2 separate regions of the Homo sapiens genome follow, and region 2 is linked to region 1. The links come from fine-mapping of genetic effects on gene expression. Tissue or cell type: adrenal gland. Region 1 holds a variant in brackets; the other region holds the start of a gene. All regions are shown on one strand. Distances are between the middles of the regions.

What was found. PIP is the estimated chance that this variant, and not a neighbour inherited with it, causes the effect.
Region 2: ZNF571-AS1 starts here. The variant in region 1 is fine-mapped to the expression of ZNF571-AS1 in adrenal gland (GTEx, PIP 0.93).

The regions. Positions count from the first base shown.
Region 1 is chr19:37,452,909-37,455,598 of GRCh38, reverse strand. All of the region lies in intron 2 of ZNF569 (zinc finger protein 569), which reads left to right. Among named protein-coding and RNA genes, the nearest start is that of ZNF569, 13 kb to the left of the region's middle. The variant G/T (reference allele first, on the strand shown) is at 1,462.
Region 2 is chr19:37,547,427-37,550,116 of GRCh38, reverse strand. ZNF571-AS1 (ZNF571 antisense RNA 1) reads right to left here and starts at 1,168. Exons shown (of 6, transcript NR_038248.1): 1 at 962-1,168. It overlaps LOC124904708, which reads left to right. Exons shown (of 2, transcript XR_007067248.1): 1 at 1-2,225.

The DNA.
Region 1 (2,690 bases):
ATGCTGCCAGGTGTAGAGCTTTCAATGAGTTTTAGGTTTTTGGCAAAACGTGGATTCAAGCAAGTGGAGTGTTAAAAAATATATATTATTATGTAGATATGGCAGTTGCTGTAAGCATTTTAACTGTATCAGAGCTCATTTCAGGAGGGAATCATGCATGATAGTCCAGAAACTAAACAAATTGATATGGCTGGAAGTAAGTTCTTTGCAGTGGAAAGAAAAATAACATTTGTTATGAATATAACATTTAGTTTGTGAATTTATTTCTAAAGTATTTCCTCAATTAGCTTAAAGTTGAGTTCCTCCAGTATACTGAATTCCGTCTTTTCTGAGGCCTTACCAATTGCTACTGCTTTGCTTGTAATGCTTTCCCACTCCCACTCCATCCTAGCTAATTTACTTGACTTTAAACTGTTATCCTAATCCTAACTTTATTTGCAAGGTATTTTTGAGCCCCATGACAAAATAAACTGAAGGACTTCTCAAAAGTTTATTGTAATGAGGGGACTTTGGGTTTCTCCTTAGGGATGTAAACAGCTGGAAAGAACTTTGCTTCAATCATTACAACAAGGAAACTACAAACTTCTACCGTACAACAAGGAAATGGACAAACTACAAAATAATTTTTCTAGGACCCTTCAGAGAACTGAGGTCACAGGGCAACCAAGTAATCTTAAATCTGGGGAAAGAAAGATGCCAGCTGAGAGAAACAGGACTCAAGCTTTACTTACCTGGGATGGACTCTGCCAGACACCATATAAGCCAGTAAGAAAATACAGCTATCAAGTTTTTAAACAAATTTTTAAAGTGTGAATGTCAGCTAATGAAAGTGTGAAACCACTGGGGGACTTGCAAAATTAGGGAGGTGGGGGTTGCAGTCTCTTGTAGGCTTTTCCTCTGGGAATCCCAACAGGCACTCATAGGGAAGATGGGAGTGAATCCTGAGAAGCCTTTCCTTGTGGTGTTAGCTGGGGGAGGGCAACAGCAGCCCAAACCCATCTTCCCTATCACTGCATAATGAAGAGCAGCAAAAACAGTTGCCTTAGGAGACTTGTAGAAAGCTATTGCAGTTTAGGAAAGGGACCTGAAAAAAAGTAATATCTCTGGGAGTAGGGGAGGAATATGCTCTAGGACTAGCACTACAGCTGGCAGAGCGGCAAGAGCACTTGTGAAGGCCACATCCCCAAGACTTAGGGATATGGTGTCTGCCTAAGACTGAGGCTTAGTGAGATCATAAGAGAATGCTATCCCTCCGTCTACTCAACCCCCACCAAGATAACAAGAATCAAATAGAAGCAATAGTAGAGTACAGCTAGGAAGCCTGCAAGAGAGATTCTCTCTGGGGAGCAGCACAAATGGAACACCCAAAACTAAGGGAGAAACATGCATTGAGAAAACAACCATGGGAAATCAACCCTTACCTTAAACACAGATATTATTAGAGGATATTATTGAAGCCTG[G/T]GGTACACTCAGTGTAACCACAGCAATGACAAACCTCAAACCCTGTCCAGCTATTGAATAGACCAGCATAACCCCCCATGTTAAAAACCTAGCAGAAGAAAAGACATACTCATGTTTAAGTGTAAAAACTTCTTAACCTTCATATCTACTGTACTATCCAAGATGTACAGCCTTCAATGAAGATTATGAGGCATATAAAAAGGCAAGAAGAAAAAGAAAAAACATACTTCAAAGAGACAAAGCAATAATCATAACTGACTTAGTTATGACATAGGTATTGCAACAACCCAACAGGAATTTAAGATAACTATGACTTATATGAAATGGACCTGATGGGTAATTGGAGCAGAGATGGAAGAAAAGTATTTAAATAAATGATGGCTGAGAATTTTCCAAGTTAGTGACACGAAACCATAGGTCCAAGAAGCTCAGAGATAAATACCAAAACAAAATTTTAAAACACATCTACACATATTATATTTAAACTGCTGGAAACTAAAAATAAAAGGAAAATCTTGAAGATAACAAGAAAAAAATTGTCTATTGAGGAACAAGAATAAGAATTACATATAGCAGATCTATTATCAGAGACCATGCAAGCAAGAAGACAAGGGAGAATCATTTTTAAAGTGCAGAAAAACTGTCAATCCAGGATTTCACACCAAGCAAAAATACCCCTTCAAAATGAAGGAGTGGGGGGTGACATCAGCAAGATGGTGGTGTAGGAAGACTTGGACCCTTCCTCACCTTCCCAAAATACTAATTCAGCAACAATTCACAGACAAATTCTGTTTGTGAGAAATCAGAAACTAATTGTAAAGGCTGTTGCATCCTGAGAGAACATGAAACAAGACTAGTGAAGCTAGTAGGGAGATTCAGGATACCCTGTTGCTGGAGATACTGCCCCTGGTACAGTACCAGACAGTCAGGAAGAGATGCCCTAACTCATCCAGGGGAGAGAAGGGGTTGGTTTGTGCAACCAGTACGCCATCTTTTCTTTGTGGGCTCTCCAGAGAATTGGCTGAAAAATTCACTAGAAGGATTCAACATCAGACTAAATAAAGCAGAAGAAAGGATTAGCAAACTGGAAGACAAGCCATTAGAAATAATTCAGTCAGGGGAGTGATAATAAAAAATAATGAAAAAGAGTGAAGAAGGCTTAAGTGGGTTATAGAATACCATCAAGCAGACTAATATATGCATTATGGGAATCTCAGGAGAAAATAGAG
Region 2 (2,690 bases), 95 kb before region 1:
TGAGCCAGACCAAGGAAAACCTGGGCCGACGAGAATCAGGGAAGGCAAGAAAAGAGGGAGAACAGAGTAGAGGCCGCAGCCCAGGCAGGATCAATCCATCCCACTCCCATGTGCCTCGGGGAACCAGGGTCCAACAGGGGACCTGGCCAGAAAGGCGACAGTCTTCGGTCCAAAGGTTCTCCGAACACTCGTGTCTTCTATCGCCAGCACAGCGCCATGGTGTGGACAGGTTGTACAGTGAAGAGGAAAAGGGGATGGCGTTGGAAACAGTTTCTTTGACATCTGTCTGCACCTGTTCTGCAGGTGAAGGTGCGAGACCTCCTCCACACCTCAGCGGATTGTATCTTCACCCCCATCTGACCTTTTTTCTGCACACATCCTTTAATCCAGAATGAAATCTGAAGAGGATGAAGGAGTGCCCGCCTCAGGTCCTGAAGCTGCGACTCCGCCAGCCACCGAATTAGAAGTGGGCTCAAGGGGGTACTGAGGACAGGACAGCTAGGGTCCGTCCAGCCTTGGGTGTGCCGCAGGACCATGGGCCCCTGGAGGAATTTGTTCTTGGTTGTCGTGTGCTGGTCTTCTTTCTGGAAGAGTGGGCGGCTTGGGAGGGGAGGTGATTTGGACGTTTGCGGGTCGCAGCCAGCCCCCCACTTCACCGAGGCTTTAGGAACCAAGAGCGAAACAAAGAACGCTTGCCCCGCAACCCAAGCCCGGCCAAAGAGACGGGCGCATCAGAGCGTAGGCGAACTACAGAGAAACCGCGCTTCACTGCACGAGCCACATTTCTTTCACCGCACACCACACACACACTCACACGCACACACAGAAAGACACACGGAAACATCCAACAGTCGCACAGAAACACACACAGCCAGGCAGCTCCTGAGGCTGCGCGGTTCTGCTCTCTGCCAGGAAACCCCTCCGGAAAGAGAGCGCCCCGGGGAACACAGGCAGGCCGTACCTCGAAATCCCAGCGGGGACACCTGTCAGGGAGACGCACCCTCACACCGCCCATGCATGCCCGACGCATCTTTGGGATCCTTAGGGATCACGTGGTGCTTCCTTGAATCTCCGCTTGAGGTTTCTTCAGGCAGGTTCGGCCTTGCCCGACTCCTAGGATCGCAGGACCATGGCGACGATCCCGCGGAGAGGGGACGCACTGCCACAGACGCCTGGGGGCCAAGCCGCTGGGGCCAGTCCCCCGGCAACGGTGGCGGTTACTGTGACGCGAGTCCCCCCTCAGCGCTAGCGCCTGGTGATCGCGCCTGGTACGTGCACTTTCGCGTTCCCGGTTTGTGGGCCGCATTGTCAGGGCTCTCAGGCTGCAGCCCAATAGGAAAACAGTGGAGGCCGTGCAGGCGGCGGTTCGGGGAAGGAGACTGCATGCGACAAGCAGCGCAGGACCCTGACTGTCGTGACCTCAGTGCCTCCTTGAGCCGACCTCGTGTTTGGGTCCGGGTGTAGGAGGAGGTGCTTCAGACCGTGAGGTGGGCACTCGGGATTGCTCTTCTGATTTGATTCTGGACTGGAATCAAATTGGAATTGACCCGGAATTGGGTCCCACGGGGCTGGGGAACCAATCTGGTGAGGTGTGGAGGGGTCGCTGGTGCACAGAAACATACCGGATACCCTCGGGGTGGGTGTCAGCAGAACATTCCTCGGCTCCATGAGCTGACTGCCTCCCTTTGATCTGGGCCTCCCAGGGCTCTTCCTGCGTCTCCAAGCTCAGGGGCTCCTGCTTCTCAGCACTGCTGTCTGGAAAAGGCGGGAACGAGGACTAAGGCAAGCCCAGTGTGGGGCAGAGATGGCAACACCTGGAACTAGCTTTTCATGGGGGCAGATAATGTGGAGAGTGTCCCAATTACATCTCCCTTTATTCTATCCCATACTACTAAACCCCACCAGCTATTTGCCTACAAACTGTGTATCAGTCAGGACATCAGGACACCAAGATAAAGGACTAGAGTTTGGTAATCAACTACTGGCTCCTCCAGCAGCTCAGAATGTGGCCTGTATGCATCACTTCACTTAATTCATTCAAGAAATGCTGACTGAGTTCCTGCTGTGTGTTGGACACTTTCTTAGAAGTGGGACACACTGCAGTGTGTGGGACAAAGGCTGGGCCGCTCATTGCTTATGTTCTAGTTGAAGAGAGAGTCAATCAACAACATTCTACTTTCAGACATTGATAAATGCTGTCATGAAAAGACAAGGAACATGAAAAGGTAAGAAAAGGGATGGAGAGAGATGGGATGAGGGGTGCCTGGGCAGACAATGCAATGATCTGGCAAAAGAGTAGGACAATCATGAGACTGCATGTGTTCCAGTTTCTGCTGCTGTAAAACAGCATCCACAGGTTACATCTTTACTATTCTGTTACATACATACTATTATTTAAATAAAAAATAGTACTAGTTAACTGTGAAAATTGCAATTAATAGGGCAGATTAAACAAATCCTTTAAATTTAAACAAATGTTTTATGGTTTTTTATCCTCTGATACATTGTTTCAACTTTAAAAAACCCTCTTTATTTGATATTTAAACTCTATATTAATGTATATTCTTAAGATACATAAATTTAAGATTTTTTTCGAGACAGGGTCTCATTCTGTCACACAGTCTGGAGTGCTGTGGTGCAATTATGGTTCACTGCAGACTCCACCTCTCCAGGCTCAGATAATCCTCCTG